4 separate regions of the Homo sapiens genome follow, and regions 1, 2 and 4 are each reported to be linked to region 3. Evidence: microRNA targets listed by miRTarBase, many of them from high-throughput screens and not tested one by one. Region 3 holds a microRNA gene; each other region holds the end of a gene's coding sequence. Distances are from middle to middle.

Region 1 (7,421 bases), not on the chromosome of region 3:
CCGAGGCTGGCAGATCACTTGAGTTCAGCAGTTTGAGAACAGCTTGGCCAACATGGTGAAATACCACCTCTACTAAAAATACAAAAATTAAAACAAAAAATAAAAATTAAATAAATACAAATACAATTCAAAAATTAGTCGGGCTTGGTGGCACATGCCTATAATCCCAGCTGCTCAGGAGGCTGAGGCACAAGAATCACTTGAACCTGAGAGGCACGAGGTTGTAGTGAGCAGAGATGGTGCCACTGGACTGCAGCCTGGGTGATGTAGTGAGACTCTGTCTCAAAAAATAAAAATAAAAATAACTCTTTTTTTGTGCTAAGTCTTCACAATCCAAGGTGTATTTCACACTTAATACATCTCAGTTCAGACTAGCCACATTTCAAGTGCCCACTAGCTACATCTTGCTATATTAGACAGCACAGGTCTACAGCAACTTGACTTGCCTGCTCCTACCCACTCTACCTCGCACTCTCATCAAATGCAGAGACAGTGCCAGGGATTTCATGAGAGGTGGGCCAGAAAAGCTCAGGGGGACTTTTTTTTTTCATATACGGCAACAAAATATGTTGCCCAGGCTGGCCTCAAGCAATCCTCCTGCCTGGGCCACCCAAAATGCTGGGAACCTGTAAAGGTGTGAGCCACAATGACCGCTCACGTTTTTTTTTTTTTTTTAACAAATCTTTGTTGTATATATTTATGGAGTAAAATGTGATGTTTTGATGTATGTATACAATTGGCATGATTAAATCAAGCTGATTAACACATCCATCACTTCACTTACCTATTATTTTTTATAGTGAGACATTTGAAATTTACTCGTAGCTATTTTGAAATATATATTACCATTGACTATAGTCACCCTGATGTGCAGTAGATCTCAAAACCTGTTCCTCCTGTCTATCTGAAATTTTGTACCCTTTAATCAATAATTCCCCATTCTCTCCCTCCCCACCTTCTCCCAAGCCTCTGTTAACCATTGTTCTACTTTCTACTTCTATGAGTTCAACTTTATTAGATTCCACATATAAGTGAGATCATGTGGTATTTATGTTTCTGTGCCTGGCTTATTTCACTTAGCATAATGACCTCCAGACTCATCCATGTTGTTGCTGGAAATGACAGGATTTCCCCCTTTCAGGGCCTGGTTGTTGTTATCATGGTGATGCTATGAGTCCACCAGGAAAAACAAAGTTACCCTTCTTCTGAACCATCCTGATTTTTTCCGATATCCCTCTTTTCTGCCCTGCAGAAACCAAGGACTAGTGCTCTCAGAGAATTTGACCTATATGTTATTCTAGCACCTACTTCACTTTGCCTTACAGTCAGTTGTTTATATTTCCAACTCTCCAACCAGATTATAAATGCCTTAATGGAAGGGTCCCACTCCCTGTTATCTCACTTTACAGGAAAAGAAAAAAAAGCGTGAGTTTAGCACTGTGTCATCAACAAATGTTTGTTGAATGAGTGCGTAAATGAATGAATGAGACAACCCTAGCAGGGTTGATGAATGAATGTGTATTATGGAAGCCTTCGTTTTATCTGGCACCTCCAGGTCCATACAACCTGCTTCCTAATAAACAGTGAAACAGGGCACTGTTGGGTCCCAGTCTGGAAACTGAAGGAAATACTTTTCTTTATCTTCTGTATCCTTACATGTATGAATTCAATTCATCAAATAGTTCCTGAGTAACTCCCATATTCCAGGCACTGTGCTGGGTGCTGTGGGAGCTGCAAAGATTAGTAAGAAATAATCCTTGCCTTCAAGTACCTAACAATGTAGTAGGGGCCTTTGGCAGGTGTACACAAATAATTATAACTTTAGTTTGAGTAACCTAAGTGCTCTAAGTGGACTAGAGTCCTGTGGGGAGAGGGGGCAAGAAGAGGAGGTTGCCAAAGAAGTTTCATTCAGAGATATCCTTTGAGATGATGCCTGAAAGAAGGACAGGATTTGGACAGGTGGGAATGGAGAGAGGGAAAGAAACAGCTTTTAAAAATCTGACAGATGGACTGGGTGTGGTATCTCACGCCTGTAATCCCAGCACTTTGGGAGGCCGAGGCGGGTGGATCATGAGGTCAAGAGACACAAACCATCCTGGCCAGCATGGTGAAACACCATCTCTACTAAAAATACCAAAATTATCCGGGCTTGGTGGTGCATGCCTGTAGTCCCAGCTACTCAGGAGCCTGAGGCAGGAGAATCGCTTGAACCCCAGGAGGCAGAGGTTGCGGTGAGCCGAGATCGCACCACTGCACTTCAGCCTGACCATAGAGCAAGACCCTGTCTCAAAAAAAAAAAAAAAAAAAAATCTGACAAATGAAGAAGAAACACAATACAGAGTAGGTATGGTGAGGAGCCTAAGTAGGACAAGGAAATGAACCCGATTTTAAAGATAAGAGCAAAGTGAAATAAATCACAACACTGTGACAAGGAAACGAACCTCTTTAAATGGGGTGAGGGCCCCACAGTTGGCAGGCACCCTCGTTTAAGTCAGCAACACCATGAAGAAAAGCTCTTGAGATTGGGAATTCCAGGAAGAGATGAGATCTGTGTCACACCTTCATCTGTGTCACACCCTCATGATTGCAGAGGCAAGGAATGGAGTGAAGGGCTCTCTGATCAAGAAAGAGGGAATCTCCTAAAGATTGTGACACAACCGGCCCGGCGCGTTGGCTCGCGCCTGTAATCCCAGCACTTTGGGCGGTCGAGGTGGGTGGATCACGAAGTCAGGAGATCGAGACCATCCTGGCTAACATGGTGAAACCCCGTCTCTACTAAAAATACACACACACACAGACACACACAAATTAGCTGGGCGTGGTGGCGGGCGCTTGTAGTCCCAGCTACTCCGGAGGCTGAGGCAGGAGAAGGCTTGAACCCAGGAGGGGGAGGTTGCAGTGAGCTAAGATCGCGCCACTGCACTCCAACCTGGGCGACAGAGCGAGAACCCATCTCAAAAGAAAAAAGAAAAAAAAAAGATTGTGACACAACCAGGTTGAGCAAAGCCCCCGAGTGACAGAGAAAGGATGAGAAGAGATCAGATACGCTGGGAATAACTTTATGTAACACAGAAGACATGGGCAATACTCTGGCTAGTGAGTACTACATGCTCTGGAGATTAGGGGAACCATACGAATGGAAAATCAAATAGCAGGCTGGGAAATCACCCCAGGGTGGGGAGATGGAAGAAGAATGGAGACAGTGATAGTGAGGACTGGAGTGTAAATTCTAAGTGACAGCCTTTTCCAAGCCACTAAGGTCAGGATCCAAGGCCTGGAGTAGGGTAGGTGGTTCTGTACATATCACAAAAATTGCACCCACAACAGCAGGAAAAAAATTCCAAGACTGATATTGAGGCAGGTGTGCAAAACAAAAGCAGAGACAATCTGATTTAAGGAAAAGATTGATTTACTTTCAATTTTATTTTTAAATTTCAGATCCACCTAATGCCCTGAGCAGTTTTACTTCAGAACAAAGAGCAGGCCCCTTTACCTTTCAGAGCCTGCACACAAGGGAGCCTGAAGAACACACACATTCTGCACTCAGTGATACACCATAGCTGTAAAGGAAACTAATAAAGGCAAGCTGCATTGATCATGTGGCAAATGCTAGGCCCTGTGCAATGCACTTTTACAGGCATTTTCTCATTTAATCCTTCAATATTACTATGGCATTGTTACTATCTTCATTTCTCAGATGCGGAAACAAGTTACATAGCTCACTAAGATGACAAAATCTAGTAATTAGTGGGGCTGTAGGAAGATTTTTAATATTATAAAATCACTATTTTTCCCAGTTAAAGGACTGCTCAGATTTTCTCTTTTTCATGGCAGTTTTAGTAAGATATATTTCCTAGAAATTTAAATAGTTCATGTAAATGTTCAAATTTATTGACATTAATTTGGTCATAATTTTTTTAAATGTCTCTAGAATCTGAGAAGTATTCCTCTCTTCATTTTTGATATTATCTGTGCCTTCTTTCTTTCTCTTGGCCAATCCAGTCAGAAATTTATAAATTTCTTTTAGTCTTCAAAACTCAACTTCTTGATTTGTTGATCATTTCTATTGTAAGTTTGTTTCCTATTTTATTAATTTCTTTTATCTCTACTACAATTCCATATTATTTCCTGCAACCTCCACCTCCCAGGTTCAAGGGATTCTCCTGCCTCAGCCTCCTGAGTAGCTGGGATTACAGGCACGTGCCGCCATGCCCAGCTAATTTTTGTATTTTTAGTAGAGACGGGATTTCACCTTGTTGGCCAGGATGATCTCAATCTCCTGACCTCATGATCTGCCCACCTTGGCCTCCCAAAGTGCTGGGATTACAGGCCTGAGCCACCGTGCCCGGCCAGAGAACATTTTTTATAAGGATATTCAGAGGCAATATCCATCAGCTACATTAAAGCAATTTTTTAAAAAAGGTTACATGAGCAGTAACTAAGATCATATTGCTTTTCACTTCCCATTAAGACAATAAACTTAAAACTAGTTCAACTTTGCTTATTTTATTTTTTCATATGCTTCTAATTCCTGGAAGGCTTATGTTATCACTGATTTTATTGTGCCTGACAATATTTCAAGGATATAGGTTACATTTTGCTTTATTATATACACCTAAAGATATAATCACTTTGGGAAACAAACCTAAAAAACTGTTTCATTATAATTTTTAATTTACACATGCATAATATATCAGAAAAATACTGGATACTCTCTTTCAAGAAATTCCAACATACACAACTTGGTGTACATTTACTTAATCCTCTTAGTCATTAATTTAAGATTTACAGACAGGCTTGGTTTCTATACAAGAAACAATCAATGGTATGTAACTACGATAAAGTATTCAGGAGAAATGTGTTTCAGGGAAAGATAATTAACATTTAAGGTTTTTGTCTTTTCTGTTTTTTGTGTAATTTACAAGATCTGAAGGGCTTAACCACAGATGTGAATATAAATAAGGAAAAGTTATCATATGGAAAAATATAATTCTCAAATGCTGATGCCAAAAGTAGTGTTAAAATTTTGTCTTATGAAATTTGAGTCAGGGGAGAAGGGCCAGGGCCAGGGCCCACATATACCCAAATGGTCCAAGCACTAAAAAAAAGTGTGCATTTTCTTTAGATAATTCTACAGCTGGTATTCACTTGCTTGGAAGAAGTACAGTTCTAAGATGATAGCTTCACAAATAACACTGTCATTTATAAGACACAAAAATGTAATAAACCAATCAGACTCTATATAGCATGGCCATATGAATAAAGATAACAAACTGCCTTCTTGAAATGACTACAACTCAATACTAATGAAACTGTCTAGGGTCAATGGTCTTGTAGTTTGAGGTGTTATCTGAGCTCATTGTTTCACAACCAAGAAAATTAAGGAGGCTGGACACAAGGGTGAGGTTGGAGCAAAACTTTTATAAGCAAAAGAAAGAAAGCTCTCCACAGTGGAGAACGGACCCGAGTGAGCTGCTGTTTTTACAGTTGAATCCAAAAGCTTTTATGTGAAACTCCCCTCAACTCTGTAGCTGTTTGTGTAACTTCCCTTATCTATGAAGCTGTGTATGTAACTCTCCTTATCTTTGTATATCTTGGGTAAGCACAAAGTGCAGCTTCTCTTGTTTGTGTAACTGTGGGTCTGTTTTAGGCAAGCCCCTCACCTCCCTGTGCAAGTTCCCACAGAGCCCACCATGTAAATGCCTGAAAATGGGAGGAATTTTTTTCCTGAGAGCCTGCTAATCACACAAAGAACAAAGGCTCTATGCTGGGCCTTGCCTTCTTATCAGTGCAGGTGCAGTTTGGTTTTTCCCCAGGCTGCTCTATTTATGCCTGTAGCTGTGATTTTTTCAGGCTCTTTCTCAGAAGACTAGCCTTAGTGGTCTGCCTAACTGATTTTTCCTTTTCTTCTCCCTCACTATTTCAGCTTATTAAAAGGCAAGCATGTTGGCTTGTTTCTGGGTCTGCTTTGCGGATCTGCAGTTGTATTGTACCTGGCACAGAAGCTACAGCGTATGCTATTTGGGAGAGTGGGGAAGCACTTGCCTAGAAAATCAAGATGGTTGTGTTCCAATTCTGTTTTGGCCCCCAGTTAGTCCCCCTAAGTAAGACATCTTCTCAAGGTCCTTATTTCCTCATTAAAAACAATAAGTGAACTGGACTCGTTCTTTAAGTTCCATTCTAGAACTGTGATTCTAAGGTGACTTGCAGGTTCATCTAACAAGACATAACACTCATAGTCTGTTTATGTTAAGTCACTTTTGAGATATTTATTATTAGAAACCATCCAACATGAAATATGAATTATTAAAATGTTTTTCTCCATGTTTCAAACCAGAAACAGTAATTCAGAATGCAACTAGCATCCTAATTTTTAAAATCAAAATAAGATGACCAGATTAATAAAACTTAGCATTCACAGTATTCAATCTAGAAAAAATATAATTAATAGAATGTTAAAGCCAAAAGAACATTTGAAAGACAGAAAGAGAGAAGGGGAGGAGAGAAAGAGAGAGGGAAAAGAGAAAGCAAGAAAGAGGAGGAGGAGGAGGATTGAGAGATGGAGAGTTTGAGATTGAGACTTCTTATGAAATATATTTTAACGGCAATTACTCATTAACAACTGTGCATTGAGAATATTTGAACATGTTGTTAAAAGCTAGGGGAAAAATGTCAAAACACAGAACCAAAATGATTCTGTATTTCCTAAAGATATACTTTGAGAAACAGAAAAATTATTTCCCATTTCACTATCCCCCAGTACCAAAAGGGAGCATTTTATGATATGCACATCTGTATAATATTTTATAGAAAATAAATGCCAAGGTATTTACAATTTAATTTACTATTTCCTCTTCAATTTGTTTTTTATAGCAGACATATTAATTTCATTTTGAACATGATATGCCAAATATCCTGAGGTTCCAGGAATGAAGTCATGTAGCTCCCCAAGGAATTTCTTCATGGCATCAATTGATATATAACCTACAAAATAAAATTTAAAAAAAGATATATACTTAAAACCCGCTCATACTATTTGCTTTTCAGTGTCTTTGATTTATTAGAGTTAAGACTTCTAAAGAATGTTTTTAGAAAAGAAGTAAAAAGAAGAAATAATACCAGTGAGAAGATTCTCCATGAAACCTTATAATTATCCGGGAACACCTCCTCTTCCCCTCCCACAACTTTCTGCCACCTTTTAAAATATTAAAAGGTGGATTAAAGCTGCTTTGACTATTGAGATTGTGATGTCTAGGTTGGGGCTAGGACATAAAAGAACTTAGATAAAAATAACTGGGAAGTGTTTCTAGCTTAGACGGTAATCACTTAGAACTATCCATCCAACTAGCTACTAACAGTGCAAACAGTTCATCTTCCCTGTTCCAGCAGGCAACACTTTCCTGCACTGCTAACACTGGAAT
Region 2 (7,528 bases), not on the chromosome of region 3:
TGTATTTTAACGCTGTTTTTTAAATTGGAGGAGGAAAAAGAATAGTGCGTATTCGCCTCCCTACAGGAAAGCATTGTTTCTAGTTTTCAGCTTAACCTTTGCAAAGATACCTTTTCATATACGAAAAGACACACACATTTCTTTAAATATTTTTACACAAATTGTAGCATACTATTATATATAAACCATTTAGTACTTTGCATTTTTTACTTAATGTATCATTTTTTTAATATGAGTCCGGATGGAGAAGAAATACTTTAATGTATCTTGTAACTTGTTTCCTATCAATACCTGAAGAGCTTTTTCATTCTTTTTACATCTCTACATAGAATCAATTGAAAGGAGAGACCATAATCTTGTTAACCACCTTCCAAAAATCAGTTTCTTCTTTACAGTCAAAACACTTAGTATAATAATGTACTCCAGAGCTTTTTATCGTAGGGTCCACCATGTTAAATGTCTATAAAATTAACAGTAAATTTTCTCATACTTCTATTATTGCTTAAGCAAGTTTATGGCTCTCATCCTCATTGCCTGGACTGTATAATCAGAGTGTGGTATCATTTGAAACGTTCAAGCTTATAAAGTCTTTTGTTTTGTTTTTCTTATTGTTACATCATAGATTTTGTTCATTCGTATAGATTTTTGTGGTTCACATTTTAGACTCCATACCACTCAAGGATATATTACTTAGTCCTTTTCATTTATAGCAGCATCTTTATTTCTGAATCAATACTCAAAACAGTTTTAAATAAACCCAAAATAATAAGAGTCATTTTCTTTCCTAACAAGGAAAAGTATTTAGTTTAACGATTACATTTATGTTTGTAGTTCTAAGTAAGACCCTGAGAGATTTTCAAAAAGGAATTAATGATTATTTTTGTCTTCCCCAGGATTGGAACGAGTTACTATGCTGTTTCTGGGATTGCATAATGTTCGTCAGACCTCCATGTTCCCTCGTGATCCCAAACGACTCACTCCTTAAATTCACACTTTGCCACTTAACTCCAGTGTGGATGACAGAGCGAGACCCTGCCTCAAAAAAAAAAAAAAAAAAAGAAAGCCACACTTATTCTTTTCAGTAACCTGCTAGTGCACAGGCTGTACTTTAGGTACTTAAAATATGCACTAGAATAAATTTGCAAGGCCCTAAAATATCACTGTTATTTTTGGAGTAATTCAGTATAGGTTCGTTTAAAAGAGATTTTTATAACTTCAGACATGCATCAGTAGGAAATAACTTGAGAAATTCATATGGTTATGTTACAAATTCATATTCTGTTACTACAGTAAACGTTAAGAGTTTTAAACAGTTAAGATTGTACAATTTTTCTTCTTTTCTATATTACAAGGGCCCCAGTGTTAATGTCTTAGATTTTCAGTATTTGAACTTATTTTTTTAAATTCTGTCATTGAGATAAGAATAATTCAGGTAGCATCTGAAATTTTAATGAATGTATAATTGGCATATCATGGAAAATTAACCAGAAAGTATCAGTTCTTAAAAGTTATGCCTAGAAATTATGTAAAGCTAAACTACTGGTTAGAAAGTATTCAGTGTAATATTGTATTAATTTGTTAAATTCTAAACTTGAATTTCAATAAAATTTTAAAGCTAATTGTAGTTTTTGTGTAACTTTGTGGCCAACTGATTTTGTAAGTGGTGCTAGGCATTCATAATTTGGTAAAAGAAAAAATACACAACTAGTTTATATAAATAAAGACTAATATGTTGTCAACATGTATTCATTTCAGGATATTAGTTTAGATGGGCGTAGGGATAGAGCTCTTAAAGTTGACAGCTTGGGTCGGTTGACAGAGTTCATTTCACATGGGTTAAAATATATTGCAGAATTTTGTTTGATTTTTAACTGGAATGGTACTGATACTTAGTGAATGTCAGTAAAATCCAGTCCCATCTTATCCGTCAAAAAGAAATTTTTGTGTAAGAATTAGTTAGAAACACTTTCCCTCTAGATTATTACAAATGTTGATGCTAATGTTAATTTTACATGACCACAAATATTGGGGAGGAACAAAACATAACATATTTTTGTACAGGAAGAAAAAATTACATGCAGAAAAATATGAGGGTCAAAAAGTTAGGAAGTTACCCCTGGACCACGAACATCTGCCCATTATGTTTGAAAGTTAAAGGGGGTGTTTACCATCTATATTGTACAGTCTTTGAAAGTTTAGATTCAGTTCTTATTTTTTTCTTTCATATCCTACCAGAATACCTTAAATATAGAAGGCACCCCAAAAGTATTTCATAATTTAATCCACAGCAAGAATAAAATATCCATCTTCTATAGTGTGTAATTGCTAGACCCTAAAATAGTACAATAATATTGGCCCTAGAGCTGTTCTTAATTTCATGTAATTATAGCTTGTTTCAAAATAAAGTTTGTAAAGTCTTAGAATGATGTAATCTTTTTTATTGTGAAGGTTTTCAAACATGCTGACCAAATTAGAACATGATAAAATACACTTGTACCTATTATCCAGTCTTATCAAATCTTTATCATATTTGCTTCAAATATTTTTTTTTATTTTTATGTATTTGTTTTGAGACCAGGTTATGAGACTGGCTAATTTTTGTATTTTGGTAGAGGTAAGATTTCTCCATGTTGCCCAGTCTGGTCTTGAACTTCTGGCCTCAAGCGATCCACCTGCCTTCACCTCCTAAAGTGCTGGGATTACAGGTGTGAGCCGCTGCACCTGACCTCTTATTTATTTATTTTTTTGAGACAAGTCTTGCTCTGTGGCCTAGGCTGGAGTGCAGTGGCATGATCTCAGCTCACTGCAACCTCCACCTCCCCGGTTCAAGCGATTCTCCTCAGCCTCCCAAGTAGGTGGGATTACAGGCTCCCACCACCATGCCCAGCCAATTTTTGTATTTTTAGTAGAGACGGGATTTCTCCATGTTGGCCAGGCTGATCTCAAACTCCTGACCTCAGGGGTGATCCGCCTGCCTGGGCATCCCAAAGTGCTGGGATTACAGGTGTGAGCCACTGTGCCTGGCCCTTACTTTATTTTTTAAAGAGAAAAGAAATCAAAAAAAAAAGAAATTGTGGGCAGTTAAGGTACCCTCTTATAGGAAACTATTATATGAATTCAAACTTTTATTCTTTTGTTTTTATATTTTCACTAAATATTTATGTTTCTATAAATGTCTAATATTGTTTTGCAGATTTATTTGATATGTAAATCCTGAGATTTTCATTGGAACTACCTTAAATTTATAGAATAATTTGAAAAGACTTGGAATTTCCCTCTCTTTAGTCTTCCAGTGGATGAACATGGTATATCTCTTCATTTATTGATTTTTTTAATTGTAGTAAAACATTTTTATTTTATACTTTAAAAGTGTTTTGCTTTTTGTGTGATGTTATTATTTATCCTATCAGCATTTTATTCTCAAGATTATCAAAGAATTTAGTACTGTTAATGCTGGAAGCAAATATCTTTCCATTTTAGCTCTATATCCTTGTGCTTTGCAGATCTGAAGATATTTCAGCTGAGTCAGAACAGCCTTGCCAAGGATCTGCTAATCATGTGATGAAGGGAGAAACTGGTGAGGTAGCTTAGTGTTTTTTTGTGGGCAGGATTTAATGAGTACTCTTGAAAACAAAATATTCAGTGTAACAAAATTTGAAAGATCTCACCCTGTTGCCCAGGCTGGAGTGCAGGGGCAGGATCTCAACTCACTGTATCCTCCACCTCCTGGGCTCAAGCAGTCTACCTCAGCCTCCTAAGGTAGCTGGGACTGCAGGCGCACACCACCACACCCAGCTAACTTTTGTATGTTTAGTAAAGACATGTAGTAGTTGTCATGTTGCCCAGGCTGGTCTTGAACTCCTGGGCTCAAGCAATCCACCTGCCTTGGCCCCCTAGAGTGCTGGGATTACAGGCATGAGCCACCACGCCCAGCTTGTGTATTTTTTCGGCTTCAGCCCGGAAATAAATGTTTCCCATGAATTCAATCATAATATAGACAGTACTTTGTTCACTGTAGTTTTACTTAACATTAGCATATTAAAACTGCTTTTAATTTTCCAGTTTATGTTAGAACACCTTACAGTGTTTTGTTTTGTTTTTTCTATTGGGAATGAAACCATGCCCCAAGGAGTTAAAAAAAAAAAAAAAGTTGAGTAACAAATTCTTGGGTGTGGAGGATAAACAGATAAGAAAAAACAACTTACTAACACTCCCCTCCCTTATAACAAAACTGTCTAAAATCAGTTAAAAGCAATATTGCTAACTAGAGTTTACACAGCAAGCTTGCTAATGTTACAGCCTAAAGTTTCACCACATATTTTATACTAACTACCTCCAAATTGGCACATGGGACCCATAAAGAGGTAACTACACATGCCGAAGAACTTTCCAGACCTCTTCCACCAATCACCTACTAATCCCAGAATCCGCCCCCTGAAGGATAAAATCACTGCCTTAACACCAGCACAGAGAGAGCAATTTGAGCTGCACTCCTGTCTCCTTGTAAGTCACTTGAAATAGAAAGCTTTTCTCAAAAACCCAGTGTCATTTTATTGGCTTAGAGCATTGGGCAGTGAGCCCCTTCTGCTTGGTAGCAGGATTGGGATCTTTTCCGTGACATTTTTAAATTGTTACAAGGGTAAAGAACACTATCAGTTATCAATTTTTTTTTCTTAGATGGCTAATTTTTTTGTATTTTTAGTAGAGACAGGGTTTCACCGTGTTAGCCAGGATGGTCTCGATCTCCTGACCTCGTGATCCGCCCGCCTCGGCCTCCCAAAGTGCTGGGATTACAGACGTGAGCCACCGCGCCTGGCCTCAGTTATCAATTTTTATATGTTGCCATTTTATGCAGCAGTATTCTTGATCTCTTACTCTTTCTAATAGTTTGTATTGAATATCTTGTATTTTCAAGGTAGATGGAGAGGTGTGAGAAGGGATAGCATAACAGTAAAAAGTATGGATTCTGTTAGCCACACTGCCTGGGTTCAGATTCTGGTTTTGCTCTTACATTAATGTATAACCTTGGATAACTTGCTTATCCTCAGCTTTCCTCATTTGCATAATCCTACATCATGAGACTATTATGGGAATTAAAAAGTGTAGAACACAGAATAGTGTGGGGCAAAATAAGAGTTTAGTCTTCCTGTCTCATTCTTATATTTGCCGATTGCATTAGATTAGTTCTTCAGTAGAGTGTTGAATAAAAGCAGTGATGGAGGCATGCTTGTATTGTTTTTATTTAAATACTAAAGTCTTGAGATTAAGTGTGATAATTTCTGTAGGTGGTTTTTGTTTTCGTTGTGTGTTTTTTTTTTTGTTTTGTTTTGTTTTTGAGACAGGGCCTTGCTCTCTTACCCAGGCTAGAGTGCAGTGGTGCAATCTCAGCTCACTGCAGTCTCGACCACCCAGGCTCAAGCAATCCTCCCACCTCAGCCTCCCAAGTAACTGGGACTACACGTGCATGTCACCACACCCAGCTAATTTTTTGTATTTTTTTGTAGAGACAAAAAAATGTATGTTGCTCAGTCTGGTCTCGAATTCCTGGACTCAAGAGATCCACCTGCCTCAGCCTCCCAAAATGCTGGGATATACAGGCATGAATCACTTCGCCTGGCCTTTAGATTTTTAATAAATGTCTTTTATCAGGTTAATGGAGATTTTATTAGTTCATTTTCTATTATGAATAAATTTTGAATTTGTCAAATACTTTATCAGTATTTGCTGTGATTTTTTCATGTTGTTTGGATACAGTGGGCTATAATAACAGAAATCCCTGATACTGTTTTTCTGGAATAAATACTGTTTGATCACTACATATTATTTTGTGTATGCAGCTGGGCATGGGCAACATAGCAAGACCTCATCTGTACAAAAAATAAAATTAGCCAGTATGGCGGCACATGCTTATAGTCCTAACTACTTGGGAGGCTGAGGCAGGAGGATGACTAGAGCTCAGGCATTCAAGGTACTGTGAGCTATGATTGTATCACCATACCCTAGCCTGGGTGACACAGTGAAAACCTGTCTCTAAAAATAAACATTTTTAAAATAAATTTTGTATATATACTGAATTCAATTTGATAATTTTATTTAAATTTTTTTCATTTTGTTCAGGTATACACAACAAAATTAATTTTAAGTGTACAGTTTTATGAATTTTGGTAATTGTATAGAGTCAATTAACCTTCACCATACTCAAGCTACAGAACATTTCCACTGCCCCAGAAAGTTTCATAGTGTATCTTTATAGTCAGTCCCCATTGCTAGCAACTCAAGGTCTGTTTTTGCCTTTTCTAGAATTTCATATAAACAGAACAATACAGTATGCAGTCTTTTGTATTTAACTTCTTCCATTAAGCATAATTTTTTGAGATCCATGTTGTTGCATATATTAATAATGTGTTTCTTTTTATTGAGTAGTATTCCGTAGAATAGATATACCATAATTTGTTTATCCATTCACCAGTTAATGGATATCTAGGTAGCTTCCAGTTTTTAATCTATAATGAATAATGCTGCTGTGAGCAATCATTTGCAAGTCTTTATATAGACATGTTTCTATTTCTTTTGGATAGATACCTAAGAGTATATTTTCTGGATTATGTAAGTGTACTGTCTTGGTCTGTACTACTATAACAAAATACCATAGATTGGGTAATTTTAAAAAACAGAAATTTATTTCTCATAGTTCTGGAGGCTGAGAAGTCCAAGATCAGGGTGCCAGCAGTGACTGGTGAGGGACCCAGTCCCTTCTTCGAAGATGGTGCCTTGTTGCTGCATCCTCTGGAGGGAATAAATGCTGTATCCTCACATGGCAGAAGGAACAGAAGGTCAAGAAAGGGTCTAAACTACTCTCCAGCCCCTTAATAAGGTGGATAATCCATTCGTGAGGGCACAGCCTCATGACTTAATCACTTCCCAAAAGGCCCCACCTCAATACCACCACAATGGGGATTAAGTTTCAACATGAATTTTGTTTTTTCCAACTTTTATTTTAGGTTCAGGGGGTACATATGCCAGTTTGCTACACGGGTAAATTGCATGTTGAGGAGGTTTTGGAGTAAAGATTATTTCACCACCCAGGTAATAAACATAGGTAGTTTTTTGTTTTGTTTTGTTTTTGTCTCTTTTTCTGGAGTAGGTGTTTGTAAGAAAATTACAGGTAGTTTTTCAATCCTCACCCTCCTCCCCCCCTTGACCCTCAAGTAGGCCCCGGTGTCTATTCCTCCTTCTTATGTTCATGTGTACTAAATGTTTAGCACCCACTTGTAAGTAAGAACATGCAGTATTTGGTTTTCTGTTCCTGCATTAATTTGCTTAGGATAATGGCCTCCAGCTCCATCATGTTGCTGCAAAGGACATTATCTCACTCTTTTCTATGGTTACATAGTATTCCGTGCTATAAGTGTACCACATTTTCTTTATCCAGTCCACTGTTGATGGCCATTTAGGTTGATTCCATGTCTTTACTATTGTGAATAGTGCTGTGATGAACATACATGCATATGTCTTTCGGGTAGAATGA
Region 3 (7,717 bases):
ACTATTTTTATTTCCCTTTAAGAGGTGAGGAAACTGAAGCTCAGGGAAAGGAAAGCTAGGTCAGTGAATGGTCAGGCCTGTCTCTTTAGCATCTGCCTCTAACCTGCTAACACCACACAGCCCTCTCAAGACACGGGCGTCAAAAGGAACGCCCACACGACAGGCTGCACCCAAATGTGATGTCCCCCTGTACACACATGCAGCACACAGCCCAGCAAGGGGAAGGAGCATGTGCAGTGGTCAGAAAGGCTTCATGGGAAAGGTGGGATTTGAGCCATTCTAGATAATTCTCAAAAAATTACAGGAAGTAGATACACAGCAGGTTCAAATGCATTAACACCAGAGTGTTGAGACTGAGAGGGAAGCAGAGGTTTGTTAGGATTGGTGGGAAACATGGTCAGGAAAATCAGGAGCAGACAATTTGTGAGGTTTCTTTAAAGTCAGACTGAGGACCCACAGCTCATGATCCCAACATTGCTCTCTGGCAGTGACAAATCACAAAGTGAAGGCTCCAAGGACTTGAGAAGACCTACTCAGGGAAGTGGTGAAGTAATGCACTGGAGGCCCTTGCCCTGCCCCTCTGTGTGCTTTCCCTGGAAGGAAGGAGGGAAGGTTGGTGACCAAATCCTCTCCAGGAATCATGTACTGCATAAGTTGTTTACTTTCAGAAGTTGGAGTTCCTTTTCTTTTTTTGAGACAGGGTCTCTCTGTTGCCCAAGCTGGAGTGCAGTGGCATGACCCTGGCTCACTGCAGCCTCTGCCTCCCTGGTTCAAGTGATTCTCGTGCCTCAGCCTCCCAAGTAGCTGGGATTACAGGCATGCGCCACCACCGCTAATTTTTAGTAGAGCCAGGGTTTCGCCATGTTGACCACGCTGGTCTTGAACTCCTGGCCTCAAATGACCTGCCCACCTTGGCCTCCCAGAGTGCTGGGATTACAGGTGAGGTTGGAGTTTCTATGTTCAAGTTGTTCCTTAGAGAGGGAAGCTGAAGGGGGACCAGCCAGGTAGGGGATGTATGTTTGCCAAGAGGCCAAGGAGTCTCTTTTTTGCCTTGGCTGTGAACCCAGGAGAAGGGAACTGAAGAGTTCTTATGAGCAGAGACTTGCACAGTGATGGAGCCCAAGAGAGGACCAGCTGGATACTTCCGACAAGATAATCAGCGCCCTGACTTTACCAAAGAGAAAGGCCATCAGTGCAAACCAGGAATTACCGAGCGCTCGTGGAACACAGGGTCACATCCTTTGGTGAACTAACAACTCAAGGATGCATGCTGGCTCTTCTCCCCTCCACACACCCATCTATGGGACCCCTGGGTAAAGACCAGCCCAGTGCCAAATGGGAGTCTACTGTACTACTAGTAAGCAGCAGTTCGGCTTTGAGAAGTCAACGCAATCCAATCATAATACAAGCTACCAGAACACCTCTTAAGAAAGATGGTCAGCCTCATCACTGGAGCCCCCGTGGCCTGACAAGCTCCTGAGGAGGACCAGAGAAAAGCAGGGATGGGCTGAAGATCACAAGGACCAGAGCTGTTTAGCCTCAAGGTGTTGATTAAACTTCAGGCCTCAGCGAACTAGTGATTAAGCCCTAAGCACAGGAGTGGCTGACCCAGGTAGCCCACGGAGGGCAAGCTACAGCTTTGGCCCAGTGGCCCAGAGAGGGCAGAAACCCTTGGGCAGGCCTTCTGACTCTCCTAGAGCCAGGCTGGTATAAATATGGAGTAAAAAGGGCAGAACCAAATCACTCATTCACAAAGATACAATTACAAAGGCCAGACACGGTGGCTCACGCCTATAATCCCAGCACTTTGGGAGGACAGGCGGGTGGATCACAAGGTCAGGAGTTCAAGACCAGCCTGGCCAACATGGTGAAATTCCATCTGTACTACAAATACAAAAATTAGCCGGGTGTGGTGGCACACACCTGTAGTCCCAGCTTCTCAGGAGGCTGAGGCAGGAGAATCGCTTGAACCCAGGAGGTGGAGGTTGCAGTGAGCCGAGACCACACCATTGCACTCCAGCCTGGGTGACAGAGTGAGACTCCGTCTCAAAAAAAAAAGATACAATTATGCAAAAACAGGGAGCGGGTGGTGGGGGGGGTGGTCCCAGCATCCTGGAGACTTTGAATAAGCTGGTGGCCAAGCTGGATGTGGTGGCTCACAGTAATTACTCTGTAATCCCAGTACTTTGGGAGGTTGAGGTAGGAGGACCGCTTGAGCCCAGGAGTTCAAGACAGAGACCAGCCTGGGCTACATGGTGAAACCCCATCTCTACAAAAAATAGAAAAATTATCCAGGTGTGGTGGTGTGTACCTGAGTCAAATTCTGGGTGACAGGAAAATTCTGGGAGATGAGAGCAGGTCAAGAGAAACTTTAGGAGGCGGTGACCTATCCAGTGATGGACACATTGAGTCTGGGATGACAGAGGATAACTGTGTAGAAACTAATGGCATCACCTGAGCTAGGCGTGGTGGCTCATGCCTGTAATCCCAGCACTTTGGGAGGCCGAGGTGGGTGGATCACCTGAGGTCAGGAGTTTGAGACCAGCCAAGCCAACATGGCAAAACCCCATCTCTACTAAAAATACAAAAATTAGCGCATGCAGTGGCATGCACTTGTACTCCCAGCTACTTGGAGGCTGAGGCAGAACAATCACTTGAGCCTAGGAGGCGGAGGTTGTAATGAACCGAGATCGCGCCACTGCACTCCAGCCTGGGTGATAGATCAAGACTCCGTCTCGAAAAATAGTAATAAAATAAATAAATGCATCACCTGGCCAATCATTCTCAAAAACCATAGCCATGGCCGGGTGCAGTGGCTCACGCCTGTAATCCCAACACTTGCACTTTGGGAGGCCGAAGCAGGTGGATCACGATGTCAGGAGTTCAAGATCAGCCTGGCCAAGATGGTGAAACCCCATCTCTACTAAACATTAAAAAATTAACTGGGCGTGGTTCGTGGGCGCCTGTAATCCCAGCTACTCAGGAGGCTGAGGCAGGAGAATCGCTTGAACCCCGGGGGGCAGAGGTTGTGGTGAGCTGAGATTGTGCCACTGCACTCCAGCCTGGGTGACAGATCAAGACTCTGTCTCAAAAAAAAAAAAAAAATAGCCACAAGTTTTTATACCTAAAGGATAACGGGAGCACCACACCAGGGCAGGCTCAACGATTCATCCTTTTGTCTCCAGAACCTCAGCGCAGAGCCCTGCCCACAGCAGGTGCCCAGTGAATACCTGATGACAAAAGGAATCAGAGGAAAATACAAATCAGACAGAAAAGCTGTGGAAAATGCAGATACTCCCTCAGGAACAGCAGAAATCCAAAGCAGACACCACCTCCACCCCTCACATCAGCCAGACCTGGAGAGAACGATCATCTTGAATGACAATGATGAACACAGCGCTCCCTATTTTGCTAAGCGCTGTGCTAAACTATATGCCTTAACTCATCTTAATGTCTACAACAGCTTATATGAGGGCTTTAAACCAAGGCTTGGTAAACTACTGCCCATGGGCCAAACCTGGCCCATCATCTAGTTCTGTATAGCCCACAAGCCAAGAATGGTTTTTACATTTTTAAGTGGTTGAAAAAAAATCAAAAGAATATTTTGAGACTGTGAAAACCGTATGAAATTCAAATTCCAATATCCAACAAATAAAGTTTTATTGGAACGGGGCCACACTATTTACTTAATACTGTGGCTGCTTTTGCTCTACAACACACAGCCGAGTGGTCACGACAGCGACTACAGCATCCTGATTTGCACTGCTGCTTTGTACACTACAAGTCACAGTGACACAGTCGTAAGTGCTTCACAGCATTTCAAGCACCTCACATATCACCTATCATTACCTGTGTGAAAAGATGTTTTCAAAGATGAAATACTTGCAATCTCTACAGATCAGCATGAACATGAATATCTACAGTCAAATTTGACCATCTGGAACACTAACTTTGTACATCAATTAGGCAAAATGTTAACCTCAAAAAGAGAAATTCAGTTCTTCCCATTAGTAGATCTGTATTACACAAATATATTTGATTATTATTATTTTTTTTTTCTGAGACCGGGTCTCACTCTGTTGCCCATGCTAGAGTGCAGTGGCATGATCACAGCTCACTGCAGCCTTAACCTCCTGGGCTGAGGTGGGAGGATCACCTCAGCCTCCTGAGTAGCTGGGACTACAGGCATGCACCACCACACCCGGCTAATTTTTCTATCTTCTGTAGAGACAGAGTTTTGCCATGTCATGGGTGACATGGCTTGTTTCGAACTTCTGGGCTCAAGTGATCTGCCCACCTCAGCCTACCAAACTGTTAAGATTACAGGCATGAGCCACTGTGTCCAGTCTCATATTATGTTTTGTTTGTTTGTTTGTTTTTGAGACGGAGTTTTGCTCTTGTTGCCCAGGTTGGAGTGCAATGGCACAGTCTTGGCTCACTGCAACCCCTGCCTCCCAGGTTCAAGCAATTCTCCTGCCTCAGCCTCCCAAGTTGCCGGAATTACAGGCCCCCGCCACGACACCCGGCTAATTTTGTGAATTTTTAGTAGAGACAGAGTTTCGCCATGTTGGCCAGGCTGGTCTCAAACTCCTGACCTCAGGCGATCCACCCGCCTTGGCCTCCAAAGTGCTGGGATTACAGGCGTGAGCCACCGCACCTGGCCATATTACGTTTAATTTTATAACCTAAAAATGTGTGGGCCAGGCGCAGTGGCTCACGCCTGTAATCCCAACACTTTGGGAGGCCGAGGCGGGCAGATCATCTGAGGTCAGGAGTTCAAGACCAGCCTGGCCAACACAGTAAAACCCCGTCTCTACAAAAAAATACAAAATTAGCTGGGCATGATGGCAGGTGCCTGTAATCCCAGCTACTTGGGAGACTGAGGCAGGAGAATCGCTTGAATCTGGGAGGCGGAGGTTGCAGTGAGCCGAGATCACGCCACTGCACTCCAACCTGGGAGACAGAGCAAGACTACGTCTCTCTCAAAAGATTTAAAAAAAAAAAGGTCAGGCGCAGTGGCTCACGCCTATAATCCCAGCACTTTGGGAGGCTGAGGCGGGCAGATCACTTGAGGTCAGGAATTCGAGACCAGCCTGAACAACATGCTGAAACCCTGTCTCTACTAAAAATACAAAAATTAGCCAGGTGTTGTAGCAGGCGCCTGTAGTCCCAGATACTCGAGAGGCCAAGGCAGGAGAATCACTTGAACCTGAGAGGTGGAGGTTGCAGTGAGCTGAGATTGCGCCATTGCACTCCAGCCTGGGTGTCAGAGCGAGACTCCATCTCAAAAAAAAAAGTTGTGATAATTTGTTTTCTCTTGGTATTTAAATGCCTACATGGTACCCTTTGATTTTACCTCTTATCAGCAAATCATAAAATATTTACTATCTGACTCTTTACAGAAAAAGTTTGTGGACCCTTGAAATGGACACTCATATTTCCATTTTCGGGGTCAGGAAACTGTGGCACACAGAGGTTATGAAATATGCCTATACTTGCAAGGCCCATCCGTGGTAACACTGCGATTTAAACCTGGGCATCCTGGCTTTAGACTCTGTGCTCCTAAAGCACACTGCCTTCCACACCTTTCTGCCCACCTATGACTCCTAACACCTCACCCCACCAGTGACTTACGTGCCTGTAGAATCTACTGCCACAGCCCGGACCCCACCACGATGACAGAGAATCTTTGCCAGTGGCTCCTTCATAGCTGGACTCCATAAAGACACAGTACCTGGAAGAGAAGAAGAACCAAAGTTGCTAATACACACCTAAGCCTGAGGTTACTAAACATGGGAAAGATGGGAACTCAAGACCAAGAGATAACAAAAAAGGGAAATAAAAGGGTAACTTTAAGGGACTCATGAAGTACAAATATAGAAGAAAAGCAAGTCAGGATGGTCAGAGTCAAAACTAAGCCAGGTACTGACCATTGCTGTGTCCGAGATGGATGACGGCATTGTAAGGGTTCTGACTCATAACATCGAGCCGCCCAGCTCGAGCATTCAGAGCTGCCACAATCTTCCCCACTGACACATCCAGGTAGGTTAGAAACCCTGTTTCTGACTGAGAGAGAAAGACAGAGAGAATGACCCAGTCCTGATTGCCCTCTGTATTCCCTCTGCTGGGGTCCTAAAGGAGAGGTGGTCATCCCAAGGGCTTCCAACCAGTTCCTGAGCTCCATGGCCACTCACAGCTGTAGCCAGGAGGAAGTGGAAGGGCAGGAACTCAAGCCGTGTTACTCGGTCACAGCGGCGGATACAGTGGAGCTCAATGCCCTGATTGTCATAGATGTGGAGCCAGCGGTTCTGAGCAACAGCAAGCAGTGCCTCAGAATGGAGAAACCTGGGGGAGAGGAAGAGTGGTTCAATTGGGAAATGAGGTCACAGGCTATCATTCAATCAGGAATGGACTATCTCACCCCAACTGACCGCTGACAGTGAGGCCACTGACCGGATGTCCCGCACCGCCTCCATGACGTTGATCTCGCACATAAGCTTCTTTGTTACCCAATCAAGGGCAGCCACATGACCTCGGCGCCCTCCAAAAGCCAGGTGTCTGTTGGAGGTGAGGGGCAGGCAGGGTGTTAAGGCAGGGGACCACCGACTCAGACAACTTGAGGTCTGCCCCACGCCAGCCCCATCTCTCCAGGCGGGCAGACACATGTTGCTGTAGGTGCTTACCCTCACACCCAAGCAAATCGAAGGACCCTCCCCTCATCAGCAACCCAAACATACACTGGGAATGGCTGAAGTGGTTAAGGAAACACATCTTAGTTCAAGAGTCACTAGAATTCAACCTTACCTTCCAGTTCGAGAGTAGTTTAGTCTGTAGGGTCCAAACTGCCGCAGATTCAAGTCAAAGTGCTGGGAAAGAGAAGAGTGAAAAAAAAGAGTGCCCTGCAGTAACGCCTTCTTCTAGCCCCCATTCCTCTATTGTCCTGCACCACCAATCAATCCCTTGGCTCCTTTACCTCCTCAGGCTCACCTTGGCTGCACTTGCAATGTCCACAGCCTCCACAATGTCAGCCTGGCATATCTTTGCTGTGTCTTCCCCATCCTCCCCTTCCAGAAACCTGAAAGCAAGGGTTAGGATGGCAGTAAAGCTTCCCAATATGAAGCAAGTATACCAACATAAAAACGAGAAAAGACAGTCCCAAAAGGCAGGGAATGGGGGTCCAGATTAGGGCTCACTCACCCAGGTTCTTCAGCAAGCAGCAGCTCAGAACGAGCAGCTTTGATACTTGTTTCCTCTTCCTCAGCTTCAGCCACCTCAAGTCGGCTTCGAGTTTTGGCTTTAGAATGTGGTAGCTGTAACATTGTTGGTGGGGAGGAGTGGCAGAAGAACCACAGGATAAGTGGGGTCACAGGAGAGCTACCTGTCCCAGCCTCCATCCAACTCACCCAGACACTCCCTGCCTCCAGCACTTCCCAACTCTCCGGCTGGACCTCACCTTTCGGGATTTGTCAATGCGACAGAACTTCTGGACCACTTCCACAGGGACGGGGGCGGGGCCTGGGAATGGATCTTGGGTCTAGGGGAAAGGAGGACGCAATTAGCAGACAGCCTTGGATTGACCCCAACCCTCTCACTCTCAAGGAACGAGGCGGCCTGCCTCGCCACCCATCAGGTCCCACGCTCACCCCGGACAAGCCGCGCTGGGACTCCGGGTTCTTCCATTCTCGGGGTTTCTTCGGGACCTGAGGCTTCTTAGAGA
Region 4 (7,979 bases), 130 Mb from region 3:
AAATGGTGCTGGGAAAACTGGCTAGCCACATGTAGAAAGCTGAAACTGGATCCCTTCCTTACACCTTATACAAAAATTAATTCAAGATGGATTAAAGACTTAAATGTTAGACCTAAAACCATAAAAACCCTAGAAGAAAACCTATGCAGTACCATTCAGGACACAGGCATGGGCAAGGACTTCATGTCTAAAACACCAAAAGCAATGGCAACAGAAGCCAAAATTGACAAATGGGATCTCATTAAACTCAAGAGCTTCTGCACAGCAAAAGAAACTACCATCAGAGTGAACAGGCAACCTACAAAATGGGAGAAAATTTTTGCAATCTACTCATCTGACAAAGGGCTAATATCCAGAATCTACAAGGAACTCAAACAAACTTACAAGAAAAAAACAAACCCCATCAAAAAGTAGGTGAAGGATATGAAGAGACACTTCTCAAAAGAAGACATCCATGCATCCAACAGACACATGAAAAAAATGCTCATCATCATGGGCCATCAGAGAAATGCAAATCAAAACCACAATGAGATACCATCTCACACCAGTTAGAATGTCAATCATTAAAAAGTCAGGAAACAACAGGTGCTGGAGAGGATGTGGAGAAATAGGAACACTTTTACACTGGTGGTGGGACTGTAAACTAGTTCAACCATTGTGGAAGACAGTGTGGCGATTCCTCAGGGATCTAGAACTAGAAATACCATTTGACCCAGCCATCCCATTACTGGGTATATACCCAAAGGATTATAAATCATGCTGCTATAAAGACACATGCACACGTATATTTATTGTGGCACTGTTCACAATAGCAAAGACTTGGAACCAACCCAAATGTCCATCAATGATAGATTGGTTTAAGAAGATGTGGCACATATACACCATGGAATACTATGCAGCCATAAAAAAGGAAGAGTTCATGTCCTTTATAGGGACATGGATGAAGCTGGAAACCATCCTTCTCAGCAAACTATTCCAAGGACAAAAAAACAAACACCGCATGTTCTCACTCATAGATGGGAATTGAACAATGAGAACACTTGGACACAGGAAGGGGAACATCACACACCGGGGCCTGTCGAGGGGTGGGGAGAAGGGGGAGGGATAGCATTAGGAGATATACCTAATGTAAATGACGAGTTAATAGGTGCAGCACACCAACATGGCACATGTATACATGTAACAAACCTGCATGTTGTACACATGTACCCTAGAACTTAAAGTATAATTTAAAAATAAATAAGTAAAAAATAAAATGCCAGAGTTGGCACCTTAAGATCCTCTTTCACAGCAAAGGAGCAGGACTAAAACCAGGCATCTTGACCAATATCCCACAGGTGCTCTGGTAAAATCTCCAAGACCAGGACCCAGGTCTTCCAGTACCTAATTCAATGTTCTTTCCATGCCCACACAAAGGCAAGCAGCAGAAGGAGGAGCAAGCATAAGGCCTTCCCAGTCACCACAGCCATGCTGTCAAACCTCTCTGTGGATATGCTGTGTTAACTTCTGAGCCTTGGGGATACCCATATTTACAATATGATAAATACATTAAGTCACATTGTTTAATATTTGGATATGGGCCCAGACGCACAAATGAACAAGAACCTCATGTCCTGGGACTTCATGGAGCACAAATTATAGTGGGCAGAGAGGCAAACTTGGAATCACCGTGACGCTGGGCATCGAGACTACTGGGTGCAACAATGGGACACACTGAAAGATGACTAGCATGTCATAGGAACTTGAAAGCATTCGTGCTCCTTCCTTTTCACAAACTGAGAAATCTTAAATTTTTTTTAACGTGTCCCAGAAGCATCTTGACAACAGAAGCACTCTCATTACTGTAAAGCCCACAATGAATAGCAGACAGCATGACTTCACCCTAGACAGGTCATGCCAACTTCACATCCCTTTCCAAATAGTATGCCAGTACTATACCAAATAGTATACCACTTTAGGAAGAGTGGTACCAGGTGGTAAGCTCCTATATTCCAATGACCAGAGTAAAATATCACCAGAACTTTATGTAAAATACATCTTGTAAAAGTATGATTACTTTATTTTTCAGAGTTAAGGCAATAATCTGTGGTTGGTTAATGTTCTAAGATGTTACAAGAACTTTAAGAGACAGGGTCTCACACTGTCACCCAGGCTGGAGTGCAGTAGCACAATCATAGCTCACTACAGCTGCAAACTCCTGGGCCTGTGATCCTCCTGCCTTAGCTTCTTAGTAGCTGGGATGATAGGTGTGAGTAACCACAACCAGCTATTATGAGAAATATATAAAATACTATTTGTGATCATGTTATTTATAAGAAATATATATATTGTCTCAATCCTTGCTTGGTCTCTTGGCTCCTAAACCCCTTGAAGTATCTTTGGTTTGCCAATGAAATGATTGGTGGCTGGGAGCCTCTAGGTAGCTTCAGGACGGGGGGCTGCTTACCAGAAAGACCAAGGCAAGATTGGAGGGTTTGGACTCCCAGCCTCAACCCCCAACCTCCAGAAAGGGGAGAGAGGCTGAAGGTTGAGTTAATCGCCAATTGCCAATGGTAATGCTGACATAATGAAGCCTCCGTAAAACCCCAAAGGGTCGGGGTCCAGATGAGCTTCTGGGTAGCTGATGACGTGGAGAGAGCATGAAAGCTCCATACCCCTTCCCACATGCCTTGCCCTGTGCATCTCTTCCATCTGGCTGTTCATCTGTATTCTTTGAAATATCCTTTACAAGCCAGAGGCAATGGCTCACACCTGTAATCTCAGCACTTTGGGAGGCTGAGGTGGGTGGATGACTTGAGGTCAGGAGTTTGAGACCAGCCTGGCCAACAGAGTGAAACCCCATCTCTACTAAAAATACAAAAATTAGCTGGGCATGGTGGTGCACACTTGTAATCCCAGCTACTTGGGAGGCTGAGGCATGAGAATCGCTTGAACTCAGGAGGTGGAGGTTGCAGTGAGTTGAGACTGTGCCACCGCACTCCAGCCTGGGTGACACAGTGAGACTCCATCTCTAAATAAAAAAATAAATAAATGAAATATCCTTTACAATAAATTAGTATTGTAACCAATATGTAGTTTTAATAAAGTAATAAAATTAAAAATGGGTAAACATAAGTAGAGTGTTTCTCTGTGTTCTGGGAGCTGCTCTAGCAAATAAATCAAAACCAAGGAAAGGGTCACGGGAACCCCACTTTATAGCCAGTCAGAAGTATAGGGACTTGCGATTGGTATCTGGAGTGGGGGCAGTCTTGTGGGCTGAGCCCTCCACCTGTGGGATCTGACTCCAATTCCAGGTAGACAGTGTCAGAATTGAATTATAGGACATCCAGCTGGTGTCCACTGGACAACCTGGTGTAAAAGTATTGAGTGGTATGTGACAACAGCAAAAACACTTTGGTTTTGTCGTATATCCCTAATACTATGCTTTTAGGTTATCAGATGATGTTATTACAGATATGACTGGAGATACAGGTCTTGGTCTTAAGAGTAATATTTCAACTACCCATTATTTACTATTCCTTTCCCATGGAAACTCAGTGAAAATGACAGAAGATTATAGGATTTTTAAAGTTTTTGACATGCAAGCATAATGCAGACCTCTTTGATGGTTGACAGATTCTTTTATTAACAGTCAAAAACTTCACACAATTGGAAAATAAATGTTTCTTCAATGAATAATCAAACAAAAATTATCCAGGACCTTATAGGGTTTTCAGTATGTACCAGGCTTGATGCACATCTTAGAAGACAGGACATTATCTTGCTGGGATCATTAGGGTATGACTGAAAGTGAGAAACAGTAATTTGTAAAACATTTACCTAATAATAGCTTTCCCAAACAGTACTTCCCCTGGAATTAAAACAGGAAATACAATTTATGTTTATACGTGGTTTTAGATATGACTCAATATACATAGATTTTAACTTTATGGTTTGGTATTACTTTTTTAAAGGCGCTCAATAGAAATTCAAATCTCACTTTAAGACCATGAATTTCAAGTTGCAATGAAGTGTACAATAAAGTTGTGATTTCTCAACATCAAAGTTTAATTATTACAAAATAGTTCAAGCAACAGATAGAATTTCAAAAACAGTATTTGCTTTGCTTCCTTGTTTTGCTCCAACACTAATCATGCTGAGGTTTTTGAAGCACAGCTATGACTAGGGCAGGCACTGCTGATTCAGTCACAAAAACCCTTCTTGGATGAACAATACTTGTTCTTTTCAGAAGAAAAGCAATTTTACCTTTTCTATTTCTATTATGAAAAACAGAGCTAAACAATTTTTGTATTTTTAGTAGAGACAGGGTTTCACCACGTTGGCCACGCTGGTCTTGAACTCCTTCAAGTGTTCTGCCTGCCTTGGCCTCCCAAAGTGCTGGGATTACAGATGTGAGTCACCCCGCCCAGCCCTAAACAATCTTAAAGTCTCCTTTTCCACCAGATGACTAAAATCTTTAGTTTGTAAATTCCCTTAGTCTCTTAAAATCAATCTATCCAGAAGACAAGAAAGACAAACTTAGTGAAGGAAAGAATGCTTCCTCACTCTCTCACCAGAAAGCCAAAGCAAAAATAGAGCCCCACAGAAATTTCAACATTGAACATTTTTTAAATCTTAAAGCTTAGTAGGAATCAAAAAGCTTTATATAAGTCAGCAGATCTGCAAACCTTGTTAGTTCAATACAAACCATGATCTAGCAGACAACTTATATTCAAAAGCTCATCTTTCAAAAGGTTCCACCTTGCCCGTCTATTTAAACAGTCACGACCTTCCTTAGAGAGGCAAGCAGTAATCTTACATGACACATAAAAGCTGTTTCACTGTGACACATATATAATGAAAAGTAATCAGTCTCCAAAGTTTTTCCAATCCACAAGCATGCATACACACACACACATACACACACCGCTTTGGTACTCTTGTCTCTAATAATTTTTAAAGCCTACTTTTCTAACTGAATTTTAAAAGTACCTTGAATTTAAATTTTTTTTAAACTTCAGTCTTCAATATTGAAACTGCTAAGTTACCCCATTTTTCCATGAAAAAAAAATAGAAAAATAAACTTGGGGAAAAAATTAAAAATAAAAAATAAACTTGGGAAAACATTACTAAATAGGTTTAAGAAAAAAGCCTATATAGGCCAGGTGCAGTGGCTCACACCTGTAATCCCAGCACTTTGGGAGGCTGAGCCAGACGGATCACTTGAGGTCAGGAGTTCGAGACCACCCTGGCCAACATGGTGAAACCCTGTCTCTGCTAAAAATACAAAAAGTAGCCAGGCATGGTAGCATGCACCTGTAATCCCAGCTATTCAGGAGGCTGAGGTGGGACAATCACTTGAACCCGGGAAGTGGAGGTTGCAGTGAGCTCCGGTCGCGCCACTGCACTCCAGCCTGGGCAACAGAGCAAGACTCTGTCTCCAAAAAAAAAGAAAAAAAAAAAACGCCTATATAAAGAAAATATTCCAATAGGAGATAAACCTATGTACACAGAGTTGCTCACCCCAGCATTATCTGTAGTAACAATTAGAAACAAATGAAATATTCAAAAACAGTAAATTAGGCAGATGATGAAACAACATGGCAAATGTATGATGCTAAGCCAAATATACAAAAAGATCCCTGTGAGACGGAGCAGGGACCCCTCTTTGGGGTGTGCCAGGGGGATTCCCACAAGCACAGAAATAAAGGAGAATCTTGAGTTTCCTTCACCGAAAACTCCAGGCACCCAGCTCGCCCCGAGAAGGAAACCAGCAAGCTGATAAGCAAGAAGGTCATAACAGTTTCAAACAATAGCCAGGGAAGTTAGAGTCACCTAGAGACATCCTTAACACGTGCCCCTGAGCTACTTTTCAGAAACCCAGACCCCCACCAAATGGATTCACACAGACGTCAGATAAGGGGGAACACCAGGGACTAAACTCTGACCTCCATTCTTTGCTCTCAGTTTCTTCCTGAGGGGCCTGGCCAGACCTTAATGTTCCTTTCTGCGGACCCCAAGTTTTTAGACAAAGCTTTGCTTCCTTAACCAATCACAAATCAGGGAGTCTTTGAATCCACCATAACCTGTAAGCCCGCCCCCTGCCTACCCCACTTCACCTTTCAGGCCAAACCAATATATAAGCTTCATGTAGTGATTTACAATTTTGGTATACAGCCATACCACCCTGAAGGCACCCGATCTCGACTGATTTACAATTTTGCCTTTAACTTCTGCTTTCCTGAAATTTACCACTGCCTTTAAATACTCTAGCTTGTAGGTCATCATGGAGATTGGGTCTCAAGCATGAGCTGCCCAATTCTCCTTGCTTGGCGCCCTGCAAATAAACATCCTCCTTTCTCCTACTGCAAAAACCACCTTTTTGCAGTTTTGCTGTTGAAGTTTGCCTTTACTGTGCAGGTGAGCAAACCCCAGTTCAGTTCACCTGCTACATTTAAACAGTATACAGCTCTATTTGCAAAAACTATACAGGAACATTTGACCTAACAAAAACCACTGGGTGACATCTACCAGAAGTATCACTGCAGAGGATTACTCGACAAAAAGTGCAATTTTCTATAGAAAGCCGAGTGTTTCCCTTGGGAAAGTGTTAATATTTTATTTTTAAGTAACTGGGGCAAAAGACTAGATTTTCTATAACTGCAATAGAATAGGACTAGAAAGGCATCCCTACAAGTCCCCAAAGTATATGGATGGAATATTTTTGATGGTTTTATAAATGACAATTGTAATTTAGCTCTCTGAAGAAAATGTCCAATCAGATTCAATCACACAAAGCATTTACTATTTTCAATCACTTGCCCAATAACAAAATGTTTAGTAAGAAATTATTCAGAACATTAAGTTGTTTATGAAATAAGTGACTAAGCAACATCAAGAAATGCTACAATAGAGCAGCTTACTGTATTCTGCAGTACTCTATACCACTACAAAAACAGTCATAAAGAGCTTAACATACTCAGCATAACGATCGTGGTTTACTTTTTGCAAGCCATGTATCTTTCAGTTACATTCTCCCAGTTGATTACATTCCAAATAGCTTTTAGATAATCAGGCCTGACATTTTTATACTGAAGGTAGTAAGCGTGCTCCCACACATCAATCCCCAGCAGTGGAATAAGGCCTGTTAGAAAGAAGGGGAAAACAAACCAACCATCAGTTTCAGTCTAAAACATTGCATCTTCTCAATTTCAACTTTTATTATTCTACTCACACAAAATTACCCTTTGTAACAATCTCATTCACTTGTTTTTTTATATAAGTAGGAAATCTAGATAAGAATGAATATTCCTATAAAATATTTTTAATTCACTGTTTACAAAGAAAATGTGACAAATACTAACAATAAAATAGACTTGGGAAAATTAACAACAGTACTTTAATAGCTATTCTTAAAAATACCAACAAATTAATTCAAGAGCCAATTCCCAGCCTTCCTCATGGTGGTCTTAGGAGCAGCAGGAAGGGTGGGTTACATCTGTGGGAGCAGGCAAAAGCCCACTGAGAACCTCCTCCAAAGGGTCTGGGCACTCACAGGGGTTTACGAGGAACCAGCTCTGCTCCCCAAGGCTAATTTTAATCTTTGGGAATACAGAGCAGTTGGAGGACACAGTGTTTTCAGAAATTAAGTGAGGTAAATGAAGAATTTAGTTCTATCTGTAAAACATCCATTTAAAAAAACTTTTGGTCTGGGCGCAGTGGCTCAGGCCTGTAATCCCAGCACTTTGGGAGGCCGAGGCAGGCAGATCTCTTGAGGTCAGGCGTTCGAGACCAGCCTGGCCAACATGGTGAAACCCCGCCTCTACTAAAAATACAAAAAATTAGCCTGGCGAGGTGGCAGGCGCCTGTAATCCCAGCTACTCAGGAAGCTGACGCAGGAGAATTGCTTGAACCTGGGAGGCGGAAGTTGTAGTGAGCCAAGATTGCGCCACTGCACTCCAGCCTGGGCAACAGAGTGAGACTCCATCACGCACACACAA

What was found. The annotated mature microRNA hsa-miR-6873-5p reads CAGAGGGAAUACAGAGGGCAAU and lies in region 3 at 6,103-6,124, opposite strand. An mRNA with a match to its seed (bases 2 to 7 or 8) in the 3' UTR can be bound and repressed. Matches are read on the target gene's strand: a 7mer-m8 pairs with bases 2 to 8, a 7mer-A1 pairs with bases 2 to 7 and ends in A, and an 8mer does both.
Region 1: the mRNA of TERB2 is a reported target of hsa-miR-6873-5p. Seed matches in the 3' UTR shown: 7mer-m8 at 6,512-6,518.
Region 2: miRTarBase lists DARS1 as a target of hsa-miR-6873-5p. Seed matches in the 3' UTR shown: 8mer at 1,969-1,976.
Region 4: miRTarBase lists SOD2 as a target of hsa-miR-6873-5p. The part of its 3' UTR that is shown has no 7-base or 8-base seed match.

What each region holds. Positions count from the first base shown.
Region 1 is chr15:44,978,052-44,985,472 of GRCh38, reverse strand. It overlaps TERB2 (telomere repeat binding bouquet formation protein 2), which reads right to left. Exons shown (of 7, transcript NM_152448.3): 7 at 6,244-6,984. The coding sequence ends at 6,845. Among named protein-coding and RNA genes, the nearest start is that of TERB2, 25 kb to the right of the region's middle. RefSeq lists a silencer at 5,195-5,395.
Region 2 is chr2:135,900,773-135,908,300 of GRCh38, reverse strand. DARS1 (aspartyl-tRNA synthetase 1) reads left to right here. Exons shown (of 16, transcript NM_001349.4): 16 at 894-2,420. The coding sequence ends at 985. Among named protein-coding and RNA genes, the nearest start is that of MCM6, 28 kb to the right of the region's middle.
Region 3 is chr6:33,281,161-33,288,877 of GRCh38, forward strand. It overlaps MIR6873 (microRNA 6873), which reads right to left and starts at 6,129; the gene lies at 6,067-6,129. WDR46 (WD repeat domain 46) reads right to left here. Exons shown (of 15, transcript NM_005452.6): 2 at 7,644-7,717; 3 at 7,454-7,534; 4 at 7,198-7,310; 5 at 6,988-7,075; 6 at 6,805-6,866; 7 at 6,454-6,558; 8 at 6,195-6,345; 9 at 5,931-6,066; 10 at 5,635-5,734. RefSeq lists enhancers at 6,072-6,605, 6,606-7,139, 7,674-7,717.
Region 4 is chr6:159,675,516-159,683,494 of GRCh38, forward strand. It overlaps SOD2 (superoxide dismutase 2), which reads right to left. Exons shown (of 5, transcript NM_000636.4): 5 at 1-7,123. The coding sequence ends at 6,978. Among named protein-coding and RNA genes, the nearest start is that of SOD2, 14 kb to the right of the region's middle.